3 separate regions of the Homo sapiens genome follow, and regions 2 and 3 are each linked to region 1. Evidence: fine-mapped expression QTL. A gene starts in region 1. Each other region holds a variant in brackets. All regions are shown on one strand. Distances are between the middles of the regions. Region 1 holds the start of MARCHF1 (membrane associated ring-CH-type finger 1). Region 2 overlaps MARCHF1 (membrane associated ring-CH-type finger 1). Region 3 overlaps MARCHF1 (membrane associated ring-CH-type finger 1).

What was found. PIP is the estimated chance that this variant, and not a neighbour inherited with it, causes the effect.
Region 2: its variant is fine-mapped to the expression of MARCHF1 in lymphoblastoid cells (GENCORD, PIP 0.95).
Region 3: its variant is fine-mapped to the expression of MARCHF1 in sun-exposed skin (GTEx, PIP 0.94).

The regions. Positions count from the first base shown.
Region 1 is chr4:164,382,588-164,385,354 of GRCh38, forward strand. MARCHF1 (membrane associated ring-CH-type finger 1) reads right to left here and starts at 1,432. Exons shown (of 10, transcript NM_001394959.1): 1 at 1,283-1,432. RefSeq lists an enhancer at 660-1,161.
Region 2 is chr4:163,619,204-163,621,970 of GRCh38, forward strand. All of the region lies in intron 5 of MARCHF1 (membrane associated ring-CH-type finger 1), which reads right to left. Among named protein-coding and RNA genes, the nearest start is that of TMA16, 130 kb to the left of the region's middle. The variant CCA/C (reference allele first, on the strand shown) is at 1,364.
Region 3 is chr4:163,542,487-163,545,253 of GRCh38, forward strand. The region is part of intron 9 of MARCHF1 (membrane associated ring-CH-type finger 1); the gene reads right to left. Among named protein-coding and RNA genes, the nearest start is that of TMA16, 49 kb to the left of the region's middle. The variant G/C (reference allele first, on the strand shown) is at 1,218.

The DNA of each region.
Region 1 (2,767 bases):
AACTTTCACTTCTTTCCATCTTTTTCACGAGATATTCCTTTTGTAAACACATTGACATTAGAAACAGATGTTCTGATAGGTACCACCGCTTCCTTGTGATCTGAAAATTGAACCTCCTAAACAAGGAATTCATCAATAAAACCTGTGTCCGCCAAGCAAAAAGCCAGGGGGTTGGGTGTTGGCATGTTGGCTATATAGCACTTATAGGCGAGACAACTCTAAACTAAGGTACCTGAGCAGGTTCAGAATCTTTTTTCGTCAAACCCACAGAGCTCTATAATAGAAAACATTTTGATCTCAAAAATGTTTAGCAAGCAAATCTTTTCTGGAACTACTGAATAACAATAAGAATTGCCAGGAAAACGTGAGGCTCTCTAACTACATATTGGCCATGCCTCTGATTCCATTCACCTGTCACAAATCTCCAAAATCAGCGCTTCAGAAACCAGAGAAAAGAGCGAGAGTGAGTCTCCCTTAACTTTGCCATTTCCCTCACACCATTTGGGGATAAAACTTGGGCGTCTCTCTGCCTCGACTGGTCACTCCACTTCCTGGAGCTCCAGAAACTCCCTCAGCACCTGGATAACTGCGACACTCACCCGTGAGCGCAGGACCCTCCTGGCGTCTTAAGTCCCAGCTCTCAGTCCCGCTGGCCGCAGGAACACAATGACATCTCTCGCCCAGGAGGGCGGTTGCAGGGAACCGAAATCGGACACAACAGTTGCAGTGAACCCGACTCAGGGTTGAGCGCATCAGCGCTAAACCCAAGACAAAGGCTGCCCTGTGTCTTCCGTACTCAGCGCTCTCCTTTGGTAATCGGTCCCCGTCCCCTTCAAGCCCACACTAGGAGCGCGTGAGCCTGTGAAGTGGCTGTCATCGACTCCGCGCTTTCCGAGGGGTGCGGCTCCGTGACTAGTACCACGCCGGTGTAAACAGCGCGCCGCGCACTGGGGATCCGCCAGAAACGGCGCGCGCGCAGAGCGGGCGCTGGGGGCCAATAGTAGCAACTACCCCAGGCTGCGGGCTGGAGCCGCCTCCTCTCACCAGAGAGGCGCCTACTGGGCGAGCCCGCCGCCCGCAGGTTGGGTGGCAGCACCCGCCGCGAACCCCAGCCACGCTCCCCAGTGGACCCACCAGGCAAAGGCACCTGCTGCCTGCCCTCCAGGGCTGATGCTGTGCCAAGCCCCGCTCGGGATCAGGGACAAGCCGCCCAGGACTACCAGCCGGAGAGAAGGGGCTCCCAGTGAGGCTGATTGAATGAATGATGTTTGCAGTCACTTACCGGCGGAGGGTGAAGTAGCTCAGGCGGCCGCCAGGCTGCGTGCGGCCGGCATCCCGGGGCGCGGGCATTCTCCCATCCTTTGTCAGTTGCGGGTGGAGCGCTCCTCCCCAGCTAGCGGACGAGCAGCCGGGTGGCAGGCAGCCCGGCTCTGGCTCGGCTCCCCAGTCCTCTCCCCTCCTCTGCTCCCCCTCCCCTTCTCCGTCCCCCTCTCTGAGCCGGCATTCACTGGGCTCCCATGATGTCATCCAGTGGAAATCTGCCATGCTCAAAGACTGGAATAATCCAGCGCTCACGCGGGGAACGCAGAGCAGGCGGAGGAGGCAACAGAGCCTCTAGGAGTTCCCAGAACTAGCATCTCCAGGTTAACTGGAGTCAAGGACAGGACATAGGGGAGTCTGCGGAAAGCAGGCTCCGAGGGTGTATGTGGGCCGGGTGGGCGCGGTGGGGATGGGGCCGGGGATGAAGAGCCTCTTCTTTGCCGTAAAGATTCCTAAATCAGTACTTAAACTGATGGCAGATGCCAAGGATAAGGAGAAAGTTTTTTTCTGGCTGCTCAGTAGCTCAGGTGCCCCATCTCGGTGATGGACACCTACACTGCAGCCACGATAATAATTAGAACCCCTGGAACCCTCAGAGCCCTAGTCACAATGAGAAAGTTTAGGATGTCTGACCAATGACAGCTTAAATGATGAGCAGCTAAAGTGAGGGAGAAAGATGTGTACTGTTTACAGGCGGGAGTCTGAGGCAAAACATTAAACAACGAGGGGACCTCAACAATCTATGACATGAACACCGAAAAGACCGCTGGTCTGAGGCAAGAAGGCACCAGTAGCAATTCACTCCTAGCCTTAGTATTGACCTCCTGTCTTCCCACCATATACTAATGGACACTCGAGAAGCGACTCTCTTGTGGCCTCACCCAAAGACTGTCATCAATGATGAAACTATTTAAATCACAAGGTTTATTGAAACTCATAAAAGGTGCGATGCCAAATCTTTTGCTCAAGATTCTATATAACATCAATAGAAGTTTTATTAGAGGAATAGACAAACAGCCTGAGTATTTTTGAAGATTCCGCTCTTTTCATGGAAACAGGCAGATACACCAGATCTGAGACCCAGCCCTACAGCAATCTAGAGCAGCTTCATGTCAAAAACTCTCCTGTTCAGGGACCAGATTTCAACAGCTCATGGTTTGTGCTCTAATCAGTCCAAGCTTCAAGGAGGCTCTTGAGTTCCCAGGATTACCTACCACCTGTCATTCCTGGAAGAGACTAAGCTTGCAGAGAAAAGTACCAGCAGCCAGTGCTGATTAGGCAGTCTTCAGTGAGAGTGCTGGGTGGGAACGTGCAGCCTCTGCCGCTGCATTCATCACCATTATCCTTTACAAGTGTGAAGACTAAGAATAACATTTATTACAAGTGTAGATACGGTTAGAAACTCCTTAATCTTTGTAAATACAAAGAGGACTCAATAAAATAATAA
Region 2 (2,767 bases), 760 kb before region 1:
TTCAGCAGGAAATAGAACTTATTAAATCTGGGTACTAGAAAGGTCATTTTGGCAGCTGAGAATTGGAAGGTTCAGGGTTGTCTGAAAGCAAAGAGCAGAGTTAGGATTCCATATATCCAGGATGCAGTGAGGATGGAGAAAAGGGATAGTTTGAGCAATCAAATCCCAACAGGTTGTTTTATTTTAAGATATGGTAAAAATAATTTGAAAGATCAACTGAAAAAGTGACACAGGGGAAAAGATTCAGGAAAATTATTTAATAAAACTCAGTAGGATCCAGAAATGAGGATACTTTTACCAGACATCTAAATGTAGTATAATTCTAGAAATTAACAGAATATGCACGTGGCACAGGGAAAGACACATCATTAGAATAGAACTGAGAGGCTAGGAATCTATCTGTCTATATGTATCTTTCTGTTTCTCGGTACAGACAAATTTGCATCTCTAGTTAGTGGGAAAAGGTAGGTTATTAAAAAAATGGCGTTGACTGGTCATTTGGAAGAATGTAAACCTGAGTCTACTGGTTACAGTAAAGTTTAGGCAAATGCAAGATTTAAATACAGCAAAAAAAAAGACCCATCAAAGTATGAGAAAAACATAATTTATGTTTAATTAATGTTTATAATAGGTGGAAAAAATCCTTTTCTTATGATGATGTAAAACAAAATGTGATATAGGAAAACAGATAAATATGATGATCTAAAAAATAAAAACTTCTAATTTATAAAAAGGAAACACATACACCCATATACCAAAACCATCCTGGACAAAACCAGAATTCATAAATAATGCCTCATTTTATTGCATATATGATAGCCAAATAGCTAATTTCTCTAGTATTTGGAGATCTTTCACGGATCAAGAAGGAAAAGTTGATCAGTTTTACAGAAAAATGAGCAAAACAGGTAGGTAGTTCACAGAAAGGGAATTATACATGGCCAAAAGCCCTGTGTAAAAAGATGATCAATCTCAATAAGCAGATAAATGTAAATTCAATTAACAATGGTATCCACGTTAACTTATCAGATCAGCACATTTTAAAGAGATTGATAATACCCAGTGTAGCCGAGGTGGGGAAGCCACGCGTTGCTATATATTGTTGAAGTAACTGTAAATTGGTACAACTTATTTGGAGAGAAATTTGATAAACTCTATTAAAATAAAAAAATGTATACCATTAAAGTTGGAAATTCTACTCATGGGAATTAATTTTGCTGAAACATTTTTATAATTGTCCAAAGATATATTTACAAGATTGTTCATTACAGCATTATCTGTAATAGCAAGAAGTTGGAAACAACCCAAGTGTTAATTCATTATTTACAATGAAATACATAAGCCATAAAAAGAATGAGGTACA[CCA/C]CACACACACACACACACACACACACACACACACACACAGAGAGAGAGAGAGAGAGAGAGAGAGAGAGAGAGAGAGAGACACGCACACACACACACACATTTATAGAATATATTTTTAGGAGAAAAATAAAGTTTCAAAATTGTATACAGTGTCATCTTGTTAGGGTAAATAGTGCTTTATTGCTATCTGTTTGTGTATGCACAGAAAAAAATCTGGAAAAGTACACATCTAGCCATTAGCAGTGATTATACCTGTGAGTTGGGATCATTGGAAACCTTTATTTCTCAGGCTGTATATTTCGTAATGTTTAAAATCTCTAATTTAATAATGAGAAAAGTAATTCTTTGGTCACGTTGATGATGTCATAAATGACAACTACTAACATCAAGAATCAAGATTTGTGTTTTGTTCTCCACTATTTAAGTGATAAACTCTTTGCTTATTTAAAGTCTTAGAGCTCCACTTCCCCTTTCATTAAATGTAGTCAATAATAACATCCACATAAAAGGATTGTGAGGATAATAACATGAAATCATTGATCTGATAACTGTTTTGTAGAGTGTCTAAGAGTTGTAATAGGACACTGATCTTGAAATACTATAATTCTTTTTACTAATTCTCAGTATGTCATTTTTTTCTCCCCACACATGAACTCAATGGTATTCTCCTGTTCAGAAGGAAGACACATAACAGTCTTAGACCAGTAACTCTCAATCCTGTCTAAAAATAAGAATTGCTGGGAAGTTTTTAAAAAATACCTTTGCCCAGGTTGATGATTCTAGAATCTGTGAGGAATGGACCTGTAGCACAGCATCTGGATGTCAGTATCCTTAAAAGCTGCTCCAGTGACTGTAACGCCCATCCAGAGTTAGAAACCACTGGTTTAGGTTAAAGGAGATCCTATCCTACTTAGAATTTTGTATTAGATTTTTTTCTGAGATTTCAGTGAGAGAATATTTGTGAAAGCTTGATTTTTTTAAACAAAGAAAACTGTGTTTTCTAAATTCCCAATTTTTGCTTTATATATCTATAAGAGATCTTGGAGTTCTGGGCATAATTTTACTACAATCTATAGAGAAAGGAGACAGAAGGTACGACTGAAGAAAAATTTGCAGCATACAGGAACACTGGGTCTCTGCTTACTACTACTTGCTGCTGAAGAGCAGGACAGGAGGAGAAAAACAAAGACTGAAATTCCACTGCCTTTACTCTCCATTTATCCACCCTGGGTTGAATGTGGTTTGGGCAGAGGGTGTGGGGGTAGAGAAGGGTATGAGGAAGACTCACCAGGATATTTCTGGGGGAAAACCAAGAGCACGACTCTTGTTCTTCCCTTCCTGGGAGGACTATGTGCCTTTCAGGCCAGCTTCTCAGCCAGCATGGGCAGTGCCTAATGTGGCA
Region 3 (2,767 bases), 840 kb before region 1:
AATCATCTAAGGGTGACTAAGTATAAACCTCTGGGGATAAAGCCCAGCTTTGCAGCATTAGGAACATACCACAGGTAATCTACCATGCAGTAAATGTGGAGAAGCCCTGGGGAGGGTAAATGCAGGATGCTATGGGACTACGTGGTAGGGCAGTGACTCTCCATCCTTAGCCAGCATCAGAATCACCTGTAGGCTTCTTCAGTACAAACTGCTGGCCTCCACCATCAGGGTTTCATAGGTCTAGGGAAGCAGGAGGTTAAAAATATGCATTTCTAGTGAACGCCCAGGTGATACTGATGTTGTTGGTCCCAGGACCATACTTTGAGAATCACTGTGCTAGGAATAACGATCCTACTTCAGGGAGCTGTAATGAGTTTCCCAGAGGAAGTGATGTTTAAGGTAAACTGCAAAGGCTGAGTTGGGATGAGGGAGGTGTGTGAGAATATATGAGTGTTTGAGTGTGTGTGGTGGTGGTGGACAAGAGAAGCTGGAAGGAAATGTTTTACAGAGAGAGGAAAGCTGAGCAAGGGCCTGGATATAGATTTGAGGAGCTGAATGAATGTTCGGCCTAGCTGGCTTCAACTAGGTCACGGGGGCAGCATAGTCCCACTGAGGAATTTCGGTTACCTTTTAATGGTTAAGTGGGAATAGGATGTGATTAGATTTGTGTTTTTGTAAATCTGCTGGGATTACATTACTGAGCATGGGTTGGGTTGAAGTTGGCAAAACTGGAGAAAGTCTAGTCAAGAAGCTTCTGCAGTTTTCAAGTTAAAAATATGATAGTTTCCACATGGATGGTAGCCATAGGGAAGGAAAGAAATGGACAGATTCCAGAGGCATTCGAGACAGAGTGAATAGGATTTGGTGATTGATTTAAGGTAGAAGAGGAAGGAGATCAGAGTGAAAGCTGTGTATCTGGGTTTGGCTACTAGATGTTAGTGGTGCCGTTCCCACAGGTGTTAGAGTGAGAAGTGGTAGGGGATTATGCATTGCGACACGCTGAGACTTTCAAACAATCATTCAGAAGATAGGTGGATGTATGGGTTGGAGTACAGTAGGAGTGGGAAATGAATTTGGGAAGTTATCAGCGGGGGCCTACAGAATGAGCAAGGAGACAGAAAAATGGAAGAAAGCATGGAGCCATGAGTTTCTTGGTTTTTGGAGATATTTTTGTGGCTGAAGTTGAGACCATCGTGTTCATTGTAGGGTAAATGATT[G/C]CTATTCAGTCACATGTCTTAGAAATGTGGTTGGATAAAATAAATGTAAGAGAGGGGTTTTCTTATGGGTGTCTATGAGGGTCTATGTATACATGACGTGAGATTGCTTCCTCTTCTTACATCTACGAGAAGGGCTCTTAATTTTCTTTCCTTCTCATGTAGCTGGAGGAGAAGAGCTCTGCAGTTTACTACAAAGAGGCCAAGTGAGGGTGACCACTGGGAGAGGGGAGAGACTACATTACCTGGAGGAAATTTGTGGTTCTCAAATGCTGAGCTCTAAATGTGTCATCTAATCTAAGGGTATCATGTCTGCCCTTGATTGCTAGGAAAACACTAGAGTTCTAGGGTAAGACATTGGGTGAAGCGAGGTGGGGATGCCTTTTTGTTTTTCCATCCATATGCGACTGCAGGATGTACAGCACACTGTTTGTTACTTGGGCCAGTACCTATATCAAGAGAGGACATTGGATTTAAAAAAGAAAAAGAAAGTTCTACCCTCAGGGAACTTATTTAATAAGGATGTAATGTGACATTTTAAAATCAAGACTCTCTGAAACAGTACATAATGTAGTTGCAAACAATGTAGTTTGATATTAATGGTATGTAAATGAGTTAATATGGAATAAATAAACACATAAAAACAACCCACAAAACCCCATCCTAACTGTTTTTCTAGCATTTAGACTCGACACGGTAGTGCTTTCATTTTCTTCCAGAAAAGGACAGTGGCACCTGGAACGCTGTCACCATCCCCTCTTTGACGCACAGAAACCCCATCCACAATTCCTATCGTGGGTCCTGGCCTTCCCTTTATCCCCGCAGCCCCTTTCGGCTTTTTGAAATGCTCAGGGCGGTGCACGCTGGCGTGTGCTGCTGCCACCTAGAGGGCGAGTGTGAGAATGGAGCCTCCCCTTCTGTGTTTATGAATCCCCACGCAGAAATGCAGAAGTAACCAACCTTTCTGTGTTTTAATCTCCTCCTTATTTATATTTTTCTTACCTCCTCTCTTTTTTTGTTCTTTCATTTTCTTCCATTTTTTCTCTGGGTGTAGGGATGTGCAAACATTTTTCACAACATTACAAACTCAAAATGTTACTATCTGAACAATGTCTTTTCTAGAGGCATCAGTGGTTAAATACTGTTTCCTGCGGGAGTGTGGGGATGTTTCTCACTGTTTTACCACCAACGATTTAGGCTGGATAAGGTATGAAAACTTATAGGGCCCAATGAGAAACAGAACTGGGTCCTTTCACACATGAAAATAATATTTTATAGACATTGTGCTTTCTCTTTTTGTTTCTGTTTTAAGTGACTTACCCATTTTAATGTGAGAATATGCCTTACTGATTTAGAAACATTTTTCTTTGCAGACTTGACACCATCCTTCACAATCAAACTTCGCATGGCTAAAATGTCAAACCATGGTGCTAACCCACTCTATCAAACTATATAGTACTAACTAAAGAGCTATAACACATTCTCTACTGGAATGCCATCTCCTTCATGCTTTAAAGGAGAGATGACTAGAGTGAATTAAATAAAATGAGAAA